Linked DNA regions of Homo sapiens: regions 2 and 3 are each linked to region 1. Evidence: fine-mapped expression QTL. A gene starts in region 1. Each other region holds a variant in brackets. All regions are shown on one strand. Distances are between the middles of the regions. Region 1 holds the start of R3HDM2 (R3H domain containing 2). Region 2 overlaps R3HDM2 (R3H domain containing 2). Region 3 overlaps R3HDM2 (R3H domain containing 2).

Region 1 (8,183 bases):
AAGTAACGAGTGATATTTGTCTTGGAAGGGACATGAACAAACCTCAAGGGAAGAGCATGAAGTAGGTAAAAATTCTAGCCACAATAAATCTGAGATAAGACTACCAATACCAAAGACTTCCACACTCCATCCTCTTCTCTGCCCTCAGAGTATTTTCATTCAATGGCCCCAAAGCACGAGATGTTTGTCCAAAGAGAAACATCCCCAGAAAAAACATCTCAACATCTCTCAATGAGTACCTTAGAAAACCAGGTTTTCCTAGTGAAAACCCATCCCACCCTTCCAAGGACAACTAATCACGATGAAAAATTCATGGAAAGAGTTCAAGGAAAAAACTCCTCCTTACCTACTCAGTCAATAAATCTGTTGTGCACTTTACTGAACATCAAGTGCTGTGCTAAGTGCTGAGGATACGGAAATTAATAAAACAAAAATGTGGCTGGGCACAGAGGCTCACGCCTACAATCCCAGCACTTTGGGAGGCCGAGGCAGGAGGATCACCAGGTCAGGAGTTCAAGACCAGCCTGACCAACACGGTGAAACACCATCTCTACTAAAAATACAAAAATTAGTTGGACGTGGTGGCGCGTGCCTGTAATCCTAGCTACTCAGGAGGCTGAGGCAGGACAATCACTTGAACCCGGGAGGTGGAGGTTGCAGTGAGCTGACATCGTGCCACTGCACTCCAGCCTGGGCGACAGACAGAGGTTCTGTCTCAAAAAAAATAAATAAATAATAATAAAATAAAATAAATAAAACAAAAATGCCTGCTCTCCTGAAGCTTTTTTTTTTTTGAGACAAAGTCTCAGTCTGTTGCCCAGGCTGGAGTGCAGTGGCACGATCTCAGCTCACTGCAACCTCAGCCTCCCAGGTTCAAGCCACTCTCCTGCCTCAGCCTCCCAAGTAGCTGGGACTACAGGCGTGTACCACCACACCCAGCTAATTTTTGTATTTTTAGTAGAGATGGGGTTTCACCATGTTGGCCAGGCTGGTCTCGAACTTCTAACCTCTGGTGATGCCCCGTCCTTGGCCTCCCAAAGTGCTGGGACTATAGGTGTGAGCCACTGCGCCTGGCCCTGAAGCTTTCTACTAGGGGAGATTAAAATATATAATACGTTATAGGTTGATAAGGGTTAAGGCAGAAAATAAAGCAGAAAAGGGGGATAGAGAGTTATGTAAATGTGTATGCAGGAGGGGCTTTGCCATCCAGATAGCCAAGGGAATATCAGTGTTAAGAGTGACATTTGGGCCAGGCGCAGTGGCTCACACCTGTAATCCCTACACTTTGGGATTACACTTTGGGAGGTGGAGGTGGGTGGATCACTTAGGGTCAGGAGTTGAAGACCAGCCTGGCCAACATATAGTGAAACCCTGTGTGTACTAAAAATACAAAAAAATTAGCCAGGCATGGTGGCAGGCACCTGTAATCCCAGCTACTCAGGGGGCTGAGGCAGGAGAATCGCTTGAACCCAGGAGGTAGAGGTTGCAGTGAGCCGAGATCATGCCACTGCACTCCAGCCTGGGTGACAGAGCGAGACTCCATCTCAAAAAAAAAAAAGAGTGAAATTTGAGTAAAGACCTGAAGGAGATGAGGGGACAGACAGGCTATGCTCTTACACAGCTTTGTAAGAGAAAAGTAACTCAGGAAGAGGAAACAAGAGCATAGACCCTGAGGCAGAAGTGTGCCTAGTGTGCTCAAGGAACAGCCAGAGGCCAGTGTGCATGTTAGGGGAAAAGGGTGCCACAGATCTAGAGCTTTAAAGCTAAGATTGGTTTGGCTGGGCGCGGTGGCTCATGCCTGTAATCCCAGCACTTTGGGAGGCCGAGGTGGGCAGATCACGAGGTCAGGAGATCGAGACCATCCTGGCTAACACAGTGAAACCCGTCTCTACTAAAAATACAAAACATTAGCCGGGTATGGTGGGGGGTGTGGTGGGGGGCGTGGTGGGGGGGCACCTGTAGTCCCAGCTACCCAGGAGGCTGAGGCAGGAGAATGGCATTTACCCAGGAGACAGAGCTTGCAGTGAGCCGAGATTGCACCACTGCGCTCCACCCTGGGTGACATAGCGAGAAAGAACAACAACAACAAAAAGTAACATTGGTTTTTATTTTGAAAGAGAAAGGAAGCCATCTCCTGTCTTAATTTTCCATTAAAAAATATTAGGCATGCTATTATTTTTTTTTTTTTTTTGAGACAGTCTCTCGCTCTGTTGCCTAGGCTGGAGTACAGTGGCACGATCTTGGCTTACTGCAAAATCCGCCTCCTGGGTTCAAATGATTCTCCCACCTCAGCCTGCCAAGAAGCTGAGATTACAGGTGCCTGCCACCACGCCTGGCTACTTTTTGTATTTTTAGTAGAGACGGGGTTCCACCATGTTGGCCAGGCTGGTCTCAAACTCCTGACCTCAGGTGATCCACCTGCCTTCGCCTCCCAAAGTGCTGCGATTACAGCATGAGCCACCGTGCCCGGCCAGTCAGGCATGCTATTTTTATTTGTCAAATTTTTTTAAAACTTTACATTGTGAAGCTCTGCCAAGAGCAATGGCTCACGCCTGTAATCCCAGTGCTTTTGGGAGTCTGAGGCCAGAGGATCACTTGAGGCCAGGAGTTCAAAACCAGCCTGGGCAACATAGCAAGATCCCATCCCTACGAAAAAAAAATTGTGAAGCTCTACTAATCATATAATGGACACAAAGACAAATGGAACTTCAACTCTGAAATTTAACTTGTTAGGAGTTCATCAGGCCTTCAAGAAAAAAGTTATCTTTTCTCTCAACTCTCTGGAGAACAGCAACAGGGTAAGAAAAATACAACTAAAAACTGAACTGAATTAATCTAACCGGCCACTTTTCACCACTATTTAAACTTTTTGTCTTTCCCGGCGCGGTGGCTCAAGCCTACCACTTTGGGAGGCCAAGGCAGGTGGATCACTTGAGCCCAGGAGTTCCAGACCAGCCTGGGCAGCAAGGTGAAACCCGTCTCTACAAAAATCAGCCAGGAGTGGTGGCTCATGCCTGTACTCCCAGCTACTTGGGGGACTGAGGTAGGAGGACGGCTTGAGGCCAGGAGGCAGAGGTTGCATTGAGCCGAAAAGGAACCACTACACTCCATTCTGGGTGACAGACTGAGACCCTGTCTCAAAAAACAAAATACAACCTTTTGTCTTGATACCCCAGCAACAAAAAGGGGGGCGGGGGTGGGGGGGGAATATTGGTGGAACAACAACAAAAAAAAGCATTAGGAAGAAGAGCCACAAATAATTCAACTGCAAATCTATCTAAAAATACAAGAAAATGCTAGGAATTTGTGATATTCCTGAAGTGAAACCTGTCACTTTCCTCCTTCCTTGAGTCTCCACGTGGCTTACGCATATCAGACAGGACTCAGGCTTCTCAATCTTAGTTATCTATTTGAACAACATTATGTACAAGGATATTCATCCAACTGGGATCTGAATTCAAACTTTTCCACTTTTCTTTCTTCCGTTTTAACGCAGTTCTGGGATTGTTATTCGGTCATTTCTCATCATTATCCAATGACAATTCACTCTAAGTCAGTATTCCTGGTAGTTCCGAGACTTAATGGCCACAAATGTTGAAAAATGTTAGCTCTACGGGAAAACGAATCGAAGCGTTTTCAGGGGCTCGAGTAGTTATGAGCTTAGTGTAGGCCCAAGTTTTAAGCTATAGAAACATCTCCCTGTATGTGCCAACTCAAATCCCCGTCCCTGTAAGAAACCTGGACACCAGCATGATTTTAAACACTTCTACACCTCTCCGTCCTATTTTTCCATGCTCCACGCTCGAAGGAAAACCGCCACCCAAGAAACACACGGAGCTAGCCACCCCGAAGCACTGGAAGGGCGCAATAGTTTTTAGGTCACCCCGCAAAGGCCACAGGTGGCGCCACCCCCCTGCCCCCGCACCGCCGCCCTCCGCCCCGCGCCCCCAGCTTCTCTCCAGCAGCGCACACTTGGAGCAGTCCTTCCCGCGGCCATCCGACCCTGACCCATCGTCCCCGGGACCGGCTGCCGGGCGCGAGGAACCCAGGCCGCGGGGCCTCCTCGCGCCCGCCCGTGCGGCCGCCACGCCCCCTCCCCACAGGCCGTCCGGGCCGCCCGCCCCCTCGGCCGGGAGGTGGCCTCACCTCGCACGGGCCTTGGCGGGGAGGGCGCCCACGTCTCCGCCCGCCGCCCGGGCCCACGGCCGCTCGGCTGCGGCTCGGCCCCGACGGCCGGCGGCGGCGCGCTTCTGGGGGCGGGCTTTTCTCGGCCGGGGCTTCCCCGGGGCCGAGGGCTGGGAAGCAGGGGGGACTGGGACGGGGGAGGGGAAAGGGGCTTGGGAAGGAGGGGGGAGAGGGGAAGAAAAGGGGGGAACCAAACCCGGAAAGGGAGAAAAGGGGGGAGGGGAAAATCAGAAGGGGAAGAAAAGCCCAGAGTCCGCCCCCCGCTGCGGCTGCGCGCTACGTCACTACGTCCGGCGTTGTCGTCACCTCGTCCTGCGTTCCGGCCGTCCCTGCTTCCTGGCTTCCCGCGTGCCCCTCAGCAGCCCTGCGGGGCCTACCGCCTGCCGCACGCACTCCCGCCGGCGCGCGCGCACTCGCACTCGCTCGCTCGCCCTCTCCTCCTTCCGCGTTACCTGTGTCAGGACACCAATCCGGAGTCACTGGGAGCCTCGGTCCTCCTTAAACCCTTCAAGTCTGTCAGATAGAATACCCTGGATTTCAATATAATACTAATAGTGATCATTCTAAAGTAATTTCCATTTACAGAGCACTTTCACTTAGGGCAGTAACTCCTGTACCAAAAGAACGTACACTCGGTATTTGTTGCATACGTGGATAACTATAGTTGAGCAGGTAAATGTCCATTTTACGTAAAGATGAAAAAAACCGACCTAGGAGGAACTCAGTCTGTCCTATTAAGATCACATTCTTACCATCATCCCCTCTCTAAGATACAGTTCTCAAAAATCGTCTTAAATGTCCAGCCTCCCCCGTTTTGTCCATTCTAGGCAGAATCAATTTAGTTATTGATTATGTGTGTGTGGATAATTTACTGACCAAACTCCCTCAAAGAAGCAATGTAGTCTTTTGTAGAATTCGACCATTAAATATTTACCTTGTGACAGAAACTGCGGTAGGCAAAAAAAGTCAAATAATTATAGTACAATTTAAGTGCTATAATAGAAAGGTTTAAATGTGCTATGGAAACACAAGGAACAGCAATTCGTTCTTAGCGGTAAAAGAGATTGAGTAAGTTACAGAGAAACTACAGGTGAAACTCCAGCTAATCTTGAGACTATAAATAGTTCACTAGAGAGGTAAGAATGGAGATTCCAGCAAAGTCATAGAGGCATGAAGTTCATCTTTCCTTCAAGGATGAGCAAGTTCCAGGTTGGTTGGCGTTTTTTGTTTGTTTGTTTGTTTGTTTTATTTATTTTGAGATGGGGTCTCGCTTTGTCACCCAGGCAACTAGATTGCAGTGGTGCAATGTCGGTTCACTACAACCTTCACCTCTCAGGTTCAAGTGATTCTCCTGCCTCAGCGTCCGGAGTAGCTGGGACTACAGGCACGCACCATCACACCCGGCTATTTTTTGTATTTTTAGTAGAGACGGGGTTTTGCCATGTTGGCCAGGCTAATCTCGAACTCCTGGCCTCAGGTGATCCACCCGCCTCGGCCTTCCAAAGTTCTGGGATTACAGGTGTGAGCCACCTTGCCCAGCCCTCTCTCCTGGTCATCACTGCCTCCTGCCCCCAAATTCTCTCAACCCTCTAGAGAACAACAACGGGGGAAGAAAAATACAACTGAACTGAACTGATCTAACCTGCCACTTTTCACCACGATTTAAACTTTTTGTCTTGGCCGGGCGCAGTGGCTCACACCTAGCACTTTGGGAGGCCAAGGCAGGTGGATCATTTGAGCTCAGGAGTTCCAGACCAGGCAGTGATGACCAGTAGGAAATAATAGCTAATATTTGTATTATGTGTATGTAAGTACAATATAAAATGTGTAGCATTCTACATCTATTGTTAGTATCAAATCCTCAATACAATAGGTACTATTATTATACCTGTTTTATAGATGAGGAAACCTGAGGCACAATAATGAAACCAAAGTTCCAGATTTTTTTTTATTTTTTTTGAGACGGAGTCTTGCTCTGTCGCCCAGGCTGGAGTGCAGTGGCATGATCTCAGCTCACTGCAACCTCCACCTCCCGGGTTCAAGTGATTCTCCTGCCTCAGCCTCTCAGGTAGCTGGGACTACAGGCATGTGCCACCACGCCCGGCTTATTTTTATTTTATTTATTTTTTTATTTTTCTTTGGTATTTTTAGTACAGATGGGGTATCACCATGCTGGCCAGGCTCGTCTCGAACTCCTGACCTCAAGTGAACTGCCCACTTCAGCCTCCCAAAGTGCTGGAATTACAGACGTGAGCCATCACGCCCAGCCTACAAGCACATTTTTAAGGGCAAAAAAGAAGGAGACAGGGAGTAGACTGATACAAAGTTGTCGGGTATTCTTGTTGGTTTACAGAAATAACATTGATTAGTGATTGGCTATAGATTGTTAAGCTATAGGATCTAGGTTATAGTGTCCAGTGCAGCATTATTATGTTAATTTATAGTTACTTGTGGCAATAGCAAGCAATTTCAAGAGATGAATACATAGCTCAAAAGCAGGAAGTAGGACATGATTGCCCTCTCATTTTATTTATTTATTTTTTATTTATTTTTTTGAGACAGGCTCTCACTCTATTTCCCAGGCAGGTGTGCAGCAGTACAATTACAGCTCACTGCACCTTCAACCTCCTGGGCTCAAATGATCCTCCAGTCTCAGCCTCCTGAGTAGCTGGGACTACAGGAACACACCACCACTCCCAGCTTTTTTTAAATTTTATTTTATTTATTTATTTTTTATTTTAGTATGGATAGGGTCTGGCTATGTTGCCCAGTCTGGTCTTGAACTCGTGAGTTCAAATGATTTGCCCGCTTTGGCCTCCTAAAGTGCTGGGATTATAGGCTTGAGCCGCCATGCCTGGTCTGCTGTCTCATTTTAATGTCTCTCTGAGCCTGATAATCTTCAAAGACTTGCATTTCCCAGATTAAAATTGTTTTATTTTCTCAGTGCCATGACACAGAATGAAAGCCTGAAATGTTTCTGAGACAAGTGCAAGAACTGAAGAACAACAACCAAGAATACCTGGATTTAAAACCTATACTCCTGGCCAGGCACGGTGGCTCACGCCTGTAATCCCAGCATGTTGGGAGGCCGAGGCGGGTGGATCACAAGGTCAGGAGTTCAAGACCAGCCTGAACAACATGGTGAAACCCCGTCTCTACTAAAAATACAAAAATTAACCAGGCATGGTGGCACGCACCTGTAATCCCAGCTACTTAGGAGGCTGAGGCAGGAGAACTGCTAGAACCCGGGAGGCAGAGGTTGCAGTGAGCTGAAATTATGCCACTGCACTCCAGCCTGGGCGACAGAGTGAGACGCCATCTCAAAAGAAAAAAAAAAAAAGGGAATCTCAAAACTTCTTTTCCAAGACAGAAAAAAACCCCAAAGGGTGAGCAAATCTGGAACTCAAGCCCTTTCCCCACCTTAGGAGTTCCCTCTGAGAGCATCAAAGACATGGCTAGAACACTGTGCCTCCCTTCCCTTAACCTTCAGACTTCATAGTTTTGAGACCTCTTGGGCAAAACTCAACCAGGGCTAACAAATAAGGCTGGATTGAGAACCCCAGGAGGGAGGATGGAGGGATGGGGATGGGCTTTGAGAAACACCAGGCAAAAAAGAATGCAACTCTCAATTGTTCATGCGTGACAGTGAGCTAAAGTGCCTTGCCAATGACCCCTTCTTGTTTGAGAGTCTCCCTTTAACATTCTTTCCCAAAACCTGTGATCTGTCCCTTTCCACCATCCCCAGGATTCCCAGCAAGGGTAGAGATCTGAGGAGGAATTTAATCTCTCACCTTTGAACCCCAGGCCTGGCAGCTCACATGGATAACAACTGTCTCCCAACATTGGCCCAGGGACGTGTCTTTCCCTAAACAAACCAACCTCTCCTCACATCCCCCACTCTGTACTTTCACTGACTATGCGTTGGCAGATTCTGCCAAGTTCTACCTGTAACTGGCTTCATTTTCAAGTCAGACGTTTGGCTGCTGCTCTGTCCCCTG
Region 2 (8,183 bases), 56 kb before region 1:
GAAGACCAAAATTTGTTCTGGTTCAAAATATAAAAATATTTCATCATTACTCCAAGAATGGGAACCAAATATATACCATTACTTTTTTTTTTTTTTTTTTTTTTTTTTTTTTAAGATACACACACAAACTCAGAGACACCCAACAAACTAGGGCAGGCAAACAAAGTTTTACCCTCTTCAGTGCCTAAATGATTAACAGCTACCCTTTTTCTGCCTACAGTAACATAAAAGGGTTAACTGTTTAAAGAAGTAAAGAACACAGGAGTAGCTGTGTATTCATATATCAAAAAGAAAAAAGCAGTGATATCAAGGGAGAGAAAAATATTTTCATGAAAGACAGGATGCAGAAAAAAATAGAACGAAAACAAAAAAGAAACATCAGTTCTGATGTCCTGCAAAACAGAAAAGGTAAGAAATATCATTCAAGATAACTGCCTTGTGCTTAGGTTTTGTCATTCTTCTTCCAAGCCTATAGTCTGTAGTAAGATAAGAAGACAGGCAATGAGAAGAAATACTCCCAAACAAAACAAGCCAATCCCCCACAACCCAAACCCCCAAAACAGAGAATTTCAAGATATCTCCAAATATCCAGGTCATATTTATAACTAAAATGAATCTTGATTTAACATTGTGCTTCTCATAGGGATTTCTCTTTCACCTTTCCTAAATGAGTAACATCAATGCAACAACTATAAAAACAAAAAGTAAATATCATCAGAAAAGCCAGTATAACATAATATCTTTGAGCATAGTCTAAGGGAAGGATATGGCATAGCTTCTCTCTGTCCCACTGCTGCTGAAACAAAATAACAGTAATCCAAAAGTCCGAATGATTTTACAACATATCATAGATTGTCCTTTTTTGTTGTTGTTGTTTAATTTTGAGACGGAGTTTCGCTCTTGTTGCCCAGGCTGGAGTGCAATGGTGCGGTCTCGGCTCACTATAACCTCCGCCTCCCGGGTTCAAGCGATTCTCCTGCCTCAGCCTCCCAAGTAGGTGGGATTGCAGGCATGCACCAACACACCGGGCTAATTTTTTATTTTTAGTAGAGATGAGGTTTCTCCACATTGGTCAGGCTGGTCTTGAACTCCTGACCTCAGGTGATCCACCCACCTTGGACTCTCAAAGTGCTGGGATTACAGGTGTGAGCCACTGCACCCAGCCAACTGTGGCCTGTTCTTATATTATCTCAAAGCCTTCCCAGGATGGACCAGTGGGATTTAACATGAACCAGGTATGTCATCCAAGTTGAAGACAGACACGTGGGTCCTAATGAGCAGTGGTGAAAAAACATAGTGCTCCATTCAGCTCCCAACAATGATAAATAATTCAGGAAAAGAACTGCCGCAATACAGAGCACAGCAGCAGGATTTAAAAATAGACCACAGGCTAGAAAGCCTTGGGGCGGGGGTGTGGGGGGAATCAGGAGTCACAGAGAAAATGGATTTCTGTCAACAAATTCCCAAGCTCTTTGCAATAAAGGGTGCTGCTGAAATTGGCACGCAAACCAAATGCCAAACTCTAATGTACTTCCTCAAAAATCAAATATTTTTCAGGAATTTGGCAAATCTGATAACAAGAGAGCTAATAAACAATGGTACTATTTGGAAAGAGCAGTTATGATAGAGAAAGCAAATCTAAATGACATAGGAAGATATGTTTTTTAAAAAATAAGGGATTAAAACTCGATTTTCCACACCACCAAATTCTAGGTCTAACATCAATTTAGACTTCTACTAATTATGCCTCTAGTACTGAGATAGCACTCAATATTTTGCTATTCCTTTTTCCACCTCTAATAGATCCTACAAGTCAACACATGCAAACACAAGAGTCACACCAATCAATAAAAAGGGTAGCTTGAAAACTGAACAAAATCCATGATTATGGTCTTCCCAGATTTAAATTAAACTCCAACTCTGGCCAAGCATGGGGGCTTGTGCCTGTAATCCCAGCCCTTTGGCAGGAGGCCAAAGTGGGAGGATCGCTTGAGGCCAGGAGATTGATACTAGCCTGGGCAATGTAGTGAGACCCCCATCTCTACAAAAAATTAGCTGGACATGGTGGCACGTGCCTGTAGTCCTAGCTACTTGGGAGGATGAGGTGAGAGAATCACTTGAGCCAAGGAGTTTGAGGCTGCAGTAAGCTATGACTGTGCTGCTGCACTTCAACCTGGATGACAAAGCAAGACTCTGTCTCTAAAAACAGTAATAACAAGCCGGGCGCGGTGGCTCACGCCTGTAATCTCAGCACTTTGGGAGGCCAATGCAGGTGGATCACGAGGTCAGGAGATTGAGATCTTCCTGGCTAGCATGGTGAAACCCCGTCTCTACTAAAAATACAAAAAATTAGCCGGGCGTGGTGGCGGGCGCCTGTAGTACCAGCTACTAAGGAGGCTGAGGCAGGAGAATGGCATGACCCCAGAGGCGGAGCTTGCAGTGAGCCAAGATCGCGCCACTGCACTCCAGCCTGGGTGACAGAGCAAGACTCCGTCTCACAAAAAAAAATGTAATAATAATAATAGAGGCTGGGCACAGTGGCTCACACCTGTAATCCCAGCACTTTGGGAGGCCGAGGTGGGCAGATCACCTGAGGTCGGGAGTTTGAGACCAGCCTGAACAACATGGAGACATCCTGTCTCTACTAAAAATACAAACTTAGCGGGGGGTGGTGGCGCATGCCTATTTGTAATCCCAGCTACTTGGAAGGCTAAGGCAAAAGAATCACTTGAACCCAGGAGGCAGAGGTTGGGGTGAGCTGAGATCGCACCATTGCACTCCAGTCTGGGCAACAAGAGCAAAACTCCTTCTCAAAAATAAATAAATAAATAAATAATAATAATAATAAGGGCGTGGTGGCTCATGCCTGCAATCCTAGCACTTTGGGAGGCCGAGGTGGGCAGATCATCTGAGGTCAGGACTTCAGGACCAGCCTGGCCAACATGGTGAAACCCCGCCTCTACTAAAAACACAAAAATCAGCTGGGGGTGGTGACGGGCACCTGTAATCCCAGCTACTCGGGAGGCTAAGGTAGGAGAATTGCTTGAACCCAGGAGACAGAGGTTGCAGTGAGATGAGATCGCACCACTGCACTCCAGCCTGGGTGCCAGAGCAAGACTCTGTCTCAAAACAAAACAAAAAAATATGGTCCCTGCCCACTCTTAACAATGAAAATACGATGTAATAATGAGCTGCAGTCCCAGCTACTCAGAAGGCTGAGGTGGGAGAATCACCTGAGGCTGGGGAGGTCGAGATTACAGGGACCCGTGATCGTGCCACTGTACTCCAGCCTGGGCAATGGGAGTGAGACCATCTCAAAAAAAAGTATGAAGTCTGATGAATAGTGTGTGGCTGGACAGTCAATCATAAAACTGTTATCTTGAGAATGACAAGAATGACCAGACCAGGCCGGGCGTGGTGGCTCACGTCTGTAATCCCAGCACTTTGGGAGGTCAAGGCAGCCTGAGGTCAGGAGTTCGAGACCAGCCTGGCCAACATGGTAAAACCCTGTCTCTACTAAAAATACAAAAAATTAGCCAGGCATGGTGGCAGGTATCTGTAATCCCAGCTACTTGGGAGGCTGAGGCAGGAGAATTACTTGAACCCAGGAGGCGGAGGTTGCAGTGAGCCAAGATCACGCCATTGCACCCCAGCCTGGGCAAAAAGAGAGAAATTCTATCTTAAAAAAAAAAAAAAAAAAAAAAAAAAAAGGCCGGGCGCGGTGGCTCACGCCTGTAATACTAGCACTTTGAGAGGCTGAGGCAGGCAGATCACGAGGTCAGGAGATCAAGATCATCCTGGCTAACACGGTGAAACCCCGTCTCTACTAAAAATACAAAAAAAAAATAGTCGGGCGTGGTGGCGGGCGCCTGTAGTCCCAGCTACTCTGGAGGCTGAGGCAGGAGAATGGCGTGAACCCGGGAGGCGGAGCTTGCAGTGAGCCGAGATCATGCCACTGCACTCCAGCCTGGGTGACAGAGCAAGACTCCATCTCAAAAAAAAAATAAATAAATAAATAAATAAAATTGAAGTGACATTCACATAAAATTAACCATTTAAAAAAAAAAATGACCAGACCAGACATATTCCACAAACTCAACAATTTATGTGACGAAGAAATAATATTCTGCATCCAAAACTGCATTTCTCTGCAGCCATCAAAATATACACCTCTCAAAAATTAAAAATAAATAAAAATATACACCTCTCTTCATAAGTCTGAGATTAATTTCAGACAACTGGAAATTTTAGGACAATATAAGACAATTTTTATGTCTAATCTCCCTATAAAAGTATAATATAGAATATAAAACCATAATCTGATCCTTTTATACATTACTTTATCC[T/C]AAGTAAGCAAACAAATGGTATCGAAAAAAATTCTTGTTCAGTATAAACTGCAAACCAACATATAATCAGATGAATATCAGATGAATATGCTCCTGCCTCACCTATTTTTAGAGGAAAAAAATGGCTATATCTCTTCATAACTGTGCCATTCAACTTACACTGTGCAAAGACCAGAACAGAATGCACTTGGAAGAAGCAGCGTTTTTTCAATTCTTAAATTCTCTAGACTCTATGAGTAAATACTAAACTGTATTTTCAAAGGAGAAACAGGCTGGTTCTTTCAAAATATGGTCCATTTAAAGTACTTATCCAGGTCAGATCAGCTGCTTTTTTTTTTTTTTTTGAGACGGAGTCTTGCTCTGTCGCCAGGCTGGAGTGCAGCGGTGCAATCTCGGCTCACTACAACCTCTGACTCCCTGGTTCAAGCAATTCTCCCGCCTCAGCCTCCCGAGTAGCTGGGATTACAGGCCCACACCACCATGTGCAGCTAATATTTTGTATTTTTAGTAGAGACAGGGTTTCACTATGTTAGCCAGGATGGTCTCGATCTCCTGACCTCGTGATCCACCCACCTCGGCCTCCCAAAGTGCTGGGATTACAGGCGTGAGCCACCATGCCCAGCCAGATCAGCTGCTTTCTAACCCCTCTCCATCAACCAGAGTAAGCCATCATCTCATTCTGTAAACCCAGGCTTTCTTACTATTAACAACAGACAGCATGGTCAAAGGGGCCCAGTTTTGAGTTCTGGCACTCTTGGTCTTGGACCTATTCTGGGTCCTTCATTGAAGATAGAACCACTATGACCCTCCTCTGACTTGCCCATGCCCTCAGGGCAAGATGTCCATGGGACCAGAGGACATACCTACCTGAAGAGCCTTACTCGACTACTCTCAGCTATGCTCCAGATCCCAGGTTTTCCTGCCTAAGCAGCCCCAAACCCCAATCAGGGCCTTCAGTGGATTTCTTCTCATCTCAAACTTTGTCCTTCCATGGACAATAACCTTCTGTTATACACGTTCCATTGCCTGAATGGTGGGCAAGGGACAAACAACGGGAAGGGTACAGATGGAGACTAGGCTTGTAGGATATCCCTGAACCATCCTATTCTGTCTCAAAAAATAATTTCCCCTCAAAGTTCTAACAGTTTTTTAATTTTGATTTACTGGGTGAGGTGGCACATGCCTGTGGTCCCAGCTACTCAGGAAGATGAGGCAGGAGGTTCACTTGAAGCCAGAAGTTCAAGGCTGTAGTGAAATAAAATTATTAAGTTCCTTTTTTAAAAATCTTGATTTATAACTACTAAATATTTAGAAATATGGGGACGGGGGCAGTGGCTCACACCTATACTCCCAACACTTTGGGAGGCTGAGGCAGGCGGATCACCTGAGGTCAGGAGTTTGACACCAGCCTGGCCAACATGACGAAGTCCCATCTCTACTAAAAAATACAAAAATTAGCCAGGTGTGGTGGCAAGTGCCTGTAATCCCAGCTACTTGGGAGGCTGAGACAGAAGAATCACTTGAACTCAGGAGGCGGCGGTTGCAATGAGCCGAGATGACACCACTGCACTCTAGCCTGGGCAAAAGAATGAGACTCAGTAAAAAAAATAAAAAATAAAAAAAAATTTTAAAAAAGGGGCAACCCACTTGGGTCCCCTTCCATGCTGTGGAAGCTTTGTTTTTTCGCTCTTTGCAATAAATCTTGCTGCTGCTCACTCCTTGGGTCCACGCTAAATAAATAAATAAATAAATAAATAAAAGAGACTTGGTCTCAGAAAAAAAAAAAAAATTAAAAATATGGAATGTGGGCTTCCATTCATGCTGTTGCCCAGGGACTGAAGTTGTTAGTAAAACCATGCCCCAAAAACTTAAACCAGTAACTAACAGAAAGTCTTGAGTTTGCAAGATAGCAGATAAGAAACAACTTTCTGAAACACTGAAACTCCTTCTGCTTGTAAGATAACAAAACTGGCTGAAATCAGTTGCAACCAATATAGCCAACTAGAGTTCACTCTGAAGGAGCGTCATCACAGCCTGAATTGCCACCACATGCTTCATATTAACTCCTCCCAAATTTGAACATGGGACCCATGAGGAGTCATGAAGAGATAACTGGGTACTGCCAAGGACTTTCTAGACCTCCCCTTTCCTTCCACCAATCACCTAGTAATCCCAGAATCTACCCGCTAAACCTGTTCTAATAAAATTACTGCACCAGGAGACAGATTTGAGCTTGACTCCTGTGAGTCAACTGGCAATATAAGCTTTTCTTTTCTCAAAAACTCAGTGTCATAGTATTGGCTTGTAGTGCATTGGGCAGCAAGCCCCTTTTGCTTGATAACATTAGGACCATGCCTACCTAGCCCTATCACATACCAGGCTTTGTGATCCTAGATAAGTAATCACCTCTCTAAGCCTCTCTTTATCTCAATGTAAAATAAGCAAGTTGAAACCTTTCGGCCAGGGGCAGTGGCTCACACCTGTAATCTCAGAAGTTTGGGAGGCCGAGGTGGGCGGATTGCTTGAGGTCAGGAGTTTGAGACCAGCCTGACCAACGTGGTAAAACCCCATCTCTACTAAAAATACAAAAATTAGCCAGGTGTGGTGGTGCATGCCTGTAATCCCAGCTACGCGGGAGGCTGAAGGGAGGCTGAAGCAAGAGAATCTCTTGAACCCAGGAGGCGGAGGTTAAAGTGAGCTGAGATCATGCCACTGCACTCCAGCCTGGGTAACAGAGCAAGACACTGTCTCAACAAAAAACAAACAAACAAAAAACACCTTTCATAGGATACTGTGATTATATAATTTTCAAAGTAATTTTGCAGGGTGTCTGGCCCACAGCAAATCTGTAACAAAATGAAACTATTATTACATGCTATGTCATCACTCTGTTTCCTATCATGGGCAAAAAGGGGACATGAAAGGGCAAAAAAGTAGAGCCAATTTCAGATAAACTATAATCAAGAGAGCTGTTTGTGGGTCTCATTTTAAGGATTTGCTTTCATGGATTCCATCTTGGTCTGTCTGGTGGTATTATTTTTCTTTTTTTTGAAACAGGGTCTTGCTCTGTTGTCCAGGCTGGTGTGCAGTGGTGCACTCAAGATTCACTGCAGCCTTAACCCCAGGCTCAAGTGATCCTCCCACCTCAGCCTCCCTAGTAGCTGAGACTACAGGCATATGCCACCACGACTGGCTAATTTTTTGTGTATTTTGTAGAGACAGCGTTTTGCCATGTTGCCCAGGCTGGTCTCAAACTCCTGGACTCAAGACATCCTTCTGCTTTGGCCTCCCAAAGTGCTGCAATTACAGGTCACTGCACCCAGCCTATTTTTCATTCTTCTCACTAAAGTCTAAGTTCTGATTCAGCAATTCTACTTCTGGGTATATATTCAAAAGAATTGAAAATAGGGTCTCAAACAGATATTTGTACATCCATGTTCATAGCAGCACTATTCATAATAGCTACATGGTAGAAGCAAGTGTTTATCAACAAATGAATGGATTTGTTCCAAATGTGGTATATACATGCAACAGAATAATATTCAGCCTTAAAAAGGAAATTCTGACATATGCTGCAACATGGATAACCTTGACGACACGCTAAAGCCAGTCACAAAACGACAAATTCTGTATAATTCCACTTATATGAGGTAGTTAGAATATTCAAAATCATAGAAGACGGAAAGTAGAATGGTACTTGCCAGGGCTGGGGGAAAGGGGGAGAGGAGAATGGGGAATTATTGTTTTATGAGTACAAAATTTCTCAGTTTTACAAAATGAAAATAATTATGGAGAAGGATTGGTGGTGATGGCTGCATGACATCATAAATGTATTTA
Region 3 (8,183 bases), 42 kb before region 1:
GTTCCTTGAGATTATTTTAGAGGTTTAACAAGAGATCAATCATCTCTCTCAGTTTCCTCATCTATAAAACAGAATAATAAGAGTACTTCTTTTGGAAGGCTGTATAAAAAAAATAACATATGTAAAGTACATAGAAAAGTGCAAACTCAACACTGTTAATACAGATGTACAGGTCACCATGATTTTTTCTCAGAGCTGCAAGTATTGCATAAAGAAAGCTATAACATAAAGGTATCCATGGAGAAATGAATGGCTTGAGAAGAATCTAGAGAGGTTAGTAGAAACAGGATTATAAAAAGTCTTACATACTAATAAAGCTGTAAGAAACTCATAAAGGACTTTTGGAAAGGAGTTACATCATCAGATTTCTATTTTAGAAAGATTACTTTTTCTACAATGTGAATGGCTTAGAAAAAAAAGAATAGAGGCAAAAACACTAGATAGAAAAAAATGTGAAAAGTACTCTGGCCCAGGCCAGGCGTGGTCGCTCACACGTGTAATGCCAGCACTTTGGGAGGCCGAGGCGGGTGGATCACGAGGTCAGGAGTTCAAGACCAGCCTGGCCAAAACGGTGAAACCCCATCTCTACTAAAAATACTAAAATTAGCTGGACGTTGTGGCAGGTGCCTGTAATCCCAGCTACTCAGGAGGCTGAGGCAGAGAACTGCTTGAACCCAGGAGGTGGAGGTTGCAGTGAGCAGATATCACAAGATCGAGCCACTGCACTCCAGCCTGGGCAACAGAGTGAGACTCCATCTCAAACAAACAAACAAATAAGAAGAAAAGTACTCTGGCTGTAGAATGAGGGGACTCTGACTTAAGATACATTGAGGAGATAAAAACTTAAAGACTTTTTTTTTTTTTTTGAGACGGAGTCTCACTCTGTCGCCCAGGCTGGAGTGCAATGGCGCAATCTGGCTCACTGCAAGCTCTACCTCCTGGGTTCACGCCATTCTCCTGTCTCAGCCTCCCAAGTAGCTGGGACTTACAGGCGCCTGCCACCACGCCCAGCTAATTTTTTGTATTTTTAGTAGAGAGGGGGTTTCACCGTGTTAGCCAGAATGGTCTCGATCTCCTGACCTCGCGATCCGCCCACCTCAGCCTCCCAAAGTGCTGGGATTACAGGCATGAGCCACCATGCCTGGCCTAACTTTAAGACTTTTATCTGGGGGTGGTGGCACACACCTGTGGTCCCAGCTAGTCGGGAGGCTGAGATGGGAAGATCACTTGATCCTGAGAGGTCGAGGCTGCAGTGAGCCCTGCACTCCAGCCTGGGCAACACAGCAGGACCCCGTCTTCAAAAAAAAAAAAAGACTTAGTAACATATGAGATGTGTGTAATGACTGGGAGAGAAGACATCTAAGAAGACACCTGGGGGACTAGACAGAAGAGCAGCTCTCAAAGTGTGGCCTGGAACCCCTGGGAATCCCCAAGACTTTCATGGAAACTACATGGTCAAAACCATTTTCAGAGTAGTAGTAAAACCCTGTTTGTCTTTTTCACTGTCATGCTCTCATGGGTGTATGGTAGCATTTTCCAGAAGATATATGAAATGGAATATTGTAACTAATTTGAATGAAAATGCAGTTATGAGAATCCAGCTGTCTTCTATTAGTACCATCATTAAAAATAATTACAAAAATAAAAAAAATGCCACATTTCTCACCACATTTTGTTGCTGCTGTTTTGTAAAAAGTTATTTTTCATACAAATTTATGTTAACATGCAATAGGTTTGAGAGGTGACAGCGTGCTGGCAGCGCTCGCAGCCCTCCCTCGCTCTGGGGGCCTCCTCTGCCTGGGCTCCCACTTTGGCGGCACTTGAGGAGCCCTTCAGCCCACCGCTGCACTGTGGGAGCTCCTTCCTGGGCTCGCCGAGGCGGGAGCCGGCTCCCTCAGCTTGCGGGGAGGTGTGGACGGAGAGGCACGGGCGGGAACCGAGGCTGCCCATGGCGCTTGCGGGCCAGCACGAGTTCCGGGTGGGAGTGGGCTCGGCAGGCTCCGCACTCGGAGAGGCCAGCCGGCCCCGCCCACCAGGGCAGTGAGGGGCTTAGCACCTGGGCAAGCAGCTGCTGTGCTCGACTTCTTGCCGGGCCTTAGCTGCCTCCCCTCGGGGCAGGGCTTGGGACCTGCAGCCCGCCATGCCTGAGCCTCCCCCCGCTTCTGTGGGCTCCTGCGCAGCCTGAGCCTCCCTGACGAGCGCCGCCCCCTGCTCCACCGCGCCCAGTCCCACGGACAGCCTAAGGGCTGAGCAGTGCAGGCCCACTGTGCAGGACTCGCAGGCAGCTCCACCTGCAGCCCCAGTGCAGGATCCACTGGGTGAAGCCAGCTGGGCTCCTAAGTCTGGTGGGGACTTGGAGAATCTTTATGTCTAGCTAAGGGATTGTAAATACACCAATCAGCACTCTGTATCTAGCTCAAGGTTTGTAAACTCACCAATCAGCACCCTGTGTCTAGCTCAGGGTTTGTGAATGCACCAATTGGCACTTGGTATCTAGTTAATCTGGTGGGGACTTGGAGAACCTTTATGTCTAGCTAAGGAGTTGTGAATGCACCTTTGGCACTCTGTATCTAGCTCAAGGTTTGTAAATACACCAATCAACACTCTGTATCTAGCTAATCTAGTGGGCTGCATATAGCTAATCTAGTGGGGACGTGGAGAACTTTTGTGTCTAGCTCAGGGACTGTAAATGCACCAATCAGCTCTCTGTAAAATGGACCAATCAGCAGGATATGGGTGGGGTCAGATAAGAGAATAAAAGCAGGCTGCCCGAGCCACCAGTGGCAACCGGCTGGGGTCCCCTTCCACACTGTGGAAGCTTTGTTCTTTCGCTCTTTGCAATAAATCTTGCTGCTGCTCACTCTTTGGGTCCACACTGCCTTTATGAGCTGTAACACTCACCGCAAAGGTCTGTAGCTTCACTCCTGAAGCCAGCGAGACCACGAACCCACCAGAAGGAAGAAACTCCGAACACATCCGAGCATCAGAAGGAACAAACTCCAGACACACCGCCTTTAAGAACTGTGACACTCACCGCAAGGGTCCGTGGCTTCATTCTTGAAGTCAGTGAGACCAAGAACCCACCAATTCTGGACAAAGGTTTACTGTCACTTTTAGTAAATTTATACTTTTTAAAAATAGGTATTTTAAATTTTCTCAGTTTTAACTTCTAATCATTAATATTTAATGTTATAACTCACAAAGACAAAAGCTCTCTGGAGATTTCAATCATTTTTAAGAGTGTTAAGGGGTTCTGATACCAGAAAGTTTGAGAACCACTGAGTGAATAATATTTCTACTCACTGAAATATGAATACTGAAGAAGAAACCAGTTTGGAAAGAAAAAGTTCTGTTTCATACATAATAAATATGTTATGCCCATGGGCGGACAAAAAGTGTCCAATGGATAGTTACACCAGTGGAACTGGAAATCTAGAACACCAAACTGAGAGTAGTTGAAACCTTGGATTTTAAACAGGGTCACAGAGGGAGAAAACACAATGAAAACAGTGGCAGAGTAACCAAAGAAAAGGCTAGAAGAGAAGCAGGGGCCTCAAGACAGACAAAAAAA[A/T]TTTTTTTTTTTTAAAAAGACAAAGTCTTGCTCTTGTCCCCCAGGTGGGAGTGCAATGGCGGGATATCAGCTCACTGCAAACTCCGCCTCCCAGGTTCAAGCGATTCTCTTGCCTCAGCCTCCCAACTAGCTGGGATTACAGGCGCCTGCCACCATGCCTGGCTAATTTTTGTATTTTTAGTAGAGATGGGGTTTCACCATGTTGGCCAGGCTGACCTGGAACTCATGACCTCAGGTGATCTGCCCGCCTCAGCCTCCCAAAGTGCTGGGATTACAGGCGTGAGCCACCACACCTGGCCAAGACACACCAATATTTAAAGGGATAAAGAAGAGGAGTATTTTGAGTGGCAACTATCTGGGGCCAGTGTCATGCAGGCAGTAAAAAGAATTTACCAAGACAGTTGTAGGTAAAGAAAGGCATATTTATTTATTAGCGAAAGTAGGAAAATATGTTGTAAGAAAGCAAACGACAAGTCAGCAAGAGAAGAACTGGCTGCCAGGAGACACAAAGGCTTGCTTGCTGGGGATTCTATAAGATGGTGCTTGTGCTGTGTGCTGAAGAGGGTTAATGATAACACCTTGTGCAGTACTGACAATGTCAAGGTTGCAGTGAGCTAACTTGCATTTTTCTATCAGCTGAGGGTCTGGTGATAGCTGGGTGCAGGAAGATTATGAGTTATTTGCGCAGGAGGGCTATGTGTCCTGGACCACGAAGGCAGTTACAGCTTATCTGCTTTCTCTTTTTGCATTCCCTTGGTCCCGCCAGCCTGACTCCTTTTCCCGAATTAGGACTCCACATGGAAGAGGCTTCCATATGGAGGGGGAAAAAGTTATAAAAATGAGAAATAAAATAAAATGTAAGAGGACATCACTAGCTATAAATTAAAGAAAAAAAAGATGGTCAGGGCTTTGAAGAAAAGAAAAAACAGCAAAAACCGAATCCATAACTAGTAGTGGGAGATACAGAATGAAAAAATGAAATCCAGCATTAACTCCAAAATCTGATTTTCACCAAATATTTCAATCCTTTCTCATATAATACTTTTTTTCTTATCAGGGTTACTAATAAACAACAGAATGGTTTTGGACTCATCTCCTTTGCCTTCTTGGTCTACCCTCCAGAGGAAATGCAAACAAGAAGGAAAATAACCAAAAGGATAGAGATGGGAGGAAAAGGAAAGATCCCCTGAAACGTTAGGAGGGAAGTGACTGATGCAGTGACTCAATGAAGAGACATTCGTTCATGCAGCAAATAACTACTGAGTAACCACTTGCAAAGCACCATGATAGGCAATGTTGAAAATAGCTGACTAATATACAAAGCTATACCCAGGTTCATCAGCAGAAGCAACAGGCTGGAAATACAAATAAAACTCTACTGGTAAGACGAGCACAGAGGCAGCTCTATTCCAAAGGTGGTTCTAGGAGATGACTCCAAGAGCTCAAAGTCATCTAATTATTGAAAAGTGGCCTAATTCCAGAAAATAACTCCAAAGGAATATTTCAAATGTTTGATAGCCTGTGGCAATGCCATGTCTTGCTGAGTTTTTTACACAGATAAGCACACCTTGGAATACACAGATAAATCTTTAAGAAATCTTAGTATATACACTACATTGTCAAACTCTGATCTAAGCTCTAAAACAAATAATAAAGCTCAGAGAGAATTACCTAGCCAGATGCACTTAGGTTGGAAAGGCTGCTTTAATTGGTCAACCTACCCTTTAAATGTAGAAGTTGTGATTTTATAAACATGACCATATTTTTTAACAAAGAATAAAAAGATTAGAATAGAAAAAAAGCATATGATAACACCCAGAATTCAGCATTATATCCAAAAAGAACCCTGAACAAGAAAGGATATATTATCATGCACAAGCTGTCACTAAAATATTTTCACACCATCATCTTGTGCTATGGTAGCTGACCTACTTCTAGCTCTAAGCCTGTATCTGATTGATTTGCAATTTTCTGGAATTATGTGGGCTTCAAGAGACACTGAACAACATCAGAAGTATCTTTTTTGTCTGAGCTCTATTTGGCTGCCGTTCCCTTTTCAAGAATTCGAGAAACAAAGGAATTATTGGATAGTAGTCAGTAACAATAGGTGTAATAATGCTAATGAAAACTTTACAGGTTGGGGGAGGGGATTCCACTTCTGGCTAACAGAGTAACAAGAATCAGAATACCTTCTAGGAGAAATAACTAAAAAAAAAAAAGAAAGAAAGAAAAAAAGAAAAAATATATGAAACAATAGTTTTTAAGTTACTGGGCATCAGGCAGTGAACGATAGTGATTCCTTGGGAGATGGGAAACAAGTGAGGTGAGTCCTGTGATTATCCAGGCTTAATCCCTAAACAGTGTTTCCAAGAAATGTAACAGGGAAGGAGAGTCTAAGGGGAACAAGGGCAGAGTCCAGCATGCTCCCTGAGTGAAGAAAATAGGACTGAGGCCAAATGCAGTGGCTCACATCTGAAATCCCAGCACTTTGGGAGGCTGAGACAGGAAGATCACTGGAGCTCAGGAGTTCAAGACCAGCTTGGCAACATAGTGAGACCCCATCTTTACCAAAAATAAAATAATTAGCCAAGCAAGGCGGAATGTACCAGTGGTCCCAGCACTTTGGGAGGCTGAGGCAAGAGGATCACTTGAGCCCAGGAGTTCGAGGCTGCAGTGAGCCATGATCACACTGCTGCCCTCCAGCCTTGATGACAGAGTGAAATCCGTCTCAAAAAAAAAGGAAGAAAGAAATATGTAATTACCAGGCTGGGTGAGGTGGCTCACGCCTGCAATCCCAGCACTTTGGGAGGTGAGGCGGGTGGATTACCTGAGGTCAGGAGTCTGAGACCAGCCTGGCCAACATGGTGAAACCCTGTCTCTACTAAAAATACAGGAAATTAGCCAGGTGTGGTGGTGGTTGCCTGTGATCCCAGCTTTTCAGGAGCCTGAGACAGAAGAATCACTTGAACCCGGGAAGCAGAGGTTGCAGTGAGCCGAGATCATGCCACTGCACTCCAGCCTGGGCAACAACAACAAAACTCCGTCTCAAATAAAAAAAAAAAAAAGAAAGAAAGAAAAGAAATATCTAATTACCATACCCCCAGCAATTAGACTCTTAAGCATTTATCACAGACAAATAAAAACTAATAATTATACAAAAATCTGGACATGAATATTCATAGTAGATTTATATGCAATAGATGAAAATTGGAACCAACACAGAAGTCCTTCAACAGGTGAATGATTAAGCAAATGCGTACAGCTACACCATGGAACGCTACTCAGCAATCAAAAGGAACAAATTATTGATACATCTAACAACTTTGATGAATCTCCAGATAATTAAGCTAAGTGGGGCAGGGGTTGGGGTAAGCCAATCTCAAAAAGAAAAAAAGCCAACTGTATATACTATAGGATTCCATCTGTGTAATGTTTTTGAAATAACAATATTATATTAGTGGTTTCCAGGGAATGGGATGGAGGGAGGCAGGTGTAGTTATAAAAGGGCAACAAGAAAGATCCTTGTGGGGATGGAACTGTTTTGCATCTTCACAGTGATGGTAGATACACAAATTCACACATTATGAAATTCAAACACCGACATACACAAATACAAGTACATGTAAAACTGGACAAAGCTGAATAAACTCTGTAAATTTTACCAATGGCTACTTCCTAACTTTAATATTGTACTATAGTTATGTGATGTTACCAATGGAAGACACTGAGTAAAAGGACATCATAGGATATTCCTATACTCTTTTTGCAACTTCCTATAAATCTATACTTGTTTCACAATGAAAAGTTAAAATAAATAACTGATAAATGATACAAATTATAGAATCTGTAAAGACACTTGAAAAGTTATTACCACTATATTCCACATGTGCAAAGAGCTATAGTAAAAAGTGAGCGGCTGGGCCCAGTGGCTCAAGCCTGTAATCCCAGCACTGTGGGAGGCTGAGGCGGGTGGATTACCTGAGGTCAGGAGTTGGAGACCAGCCTGGCCAACATGGCAAAATCCTGTCTCTACTAAAAATACAAAAAATTAGCCAGGTGTGGTGGTGGGCACCTGTAATCCCAGCAATTTGGGAGGCCAAGGCAGGAGAATCACTTCAACCTGGGAGGTGGAGGTTGCAGTGAGCCGAGATCGTGCAACTCCTATGCTCAAGTGATCCTCCTACCTCAGGCCTCCCAAGTAGCTGAGACTACAGGCTTCATGAACCACCACACCCAGCTAAGGGAAAATCTTAAAAGCAGCCAGAGCAAAAGGACACAAATAACAGCGGTTTCCAACCTTTTTGGCACCAAGGACCAGTTTTGTTGAAGACAAATTTTCCATGGACAGTAAGGCGATGGTTTCAGGATGAAACTGTTCCACCTCAGATCATCAGGCATTAGATTTGCCTAAGGACTATACAACCTAGATCACTCACATGCACAGTTCACAATAGAGTTCACACTCCTATGAGAATCTAATGCCACTGCTGATCTGACAGGAGGCTGAGTTCAGGGGGTAATGTTCACTCGCCTGCCGCTTACCTCTTGGACCAGCACTGGTCCATGGCCCAGGGACTGGGGAACCCTGACATATAGAAGAACAAAGATAAAG

What was found. PIP is the estimated chance that this variant, and not a neighbour inherited with it, causes the effect. A credible set is the group of variants that fine-mapping cannot tell apart.
Region 2: its variant is the best candidate, but not a certain one, in a credible set for the expression of R3HDM2 in whole blood (TOPMed, PIP 0.82).
Region 3: its variant is the best candidate, but not a certain one, in a credible set for the expression of R3HDM2 in whole blood (TOPMed, PIP 0.82).

The regions. Positions count from the first base shown.
Region 1 is chr12:57,426,574-57,434,756 of GRCh38, forward strand. It overlaps R3HDM2 (R3H domain containing 2), which reads right to left and starts at 4,470. Exons shown (of 24, transcript NM_001394031.1): 1 at 4,147-4,470. It overlaps R3HDM2-DT (R3HDM2 divergent transcript), which reads left to right and starts at 4,543. Exons shown (of 2, transcript NR_185976.1): 1 at 4,543-4,857; 2 at 7,130-7,362. RefSeq lists an enhancer at 3,612-3,721 and a silencer at 3,902-4,371.
Region 2 is chr12:57,371,002-57,379,184 of GRCh38, forward strand. The region is part of intron 2 of R3HDM2 (R3H domain containing 2); the gene reads right to left. Among named protein-coding and RNA genes, the nearest start is that of R3HDM2, 56 kb to the right of the region's middle. RefSeq lists a silencer at 1,325-1,619. The variant T/C (reference allele first, on the strand shown) is at 4,347.
Region 3 is chr12:57,384,395-57,392,577 of GRCh38, forward strand. The region is part of intron 2 of R3HDM2 (R3H domain containing 2); the gene reads right to left. Among named protein-coding and RNA genes, the nearest start is that of R3HDM2, 43 kb to the right of the region's middle. The variant A/T (reference allele first, on the strand shown) is at 3,572.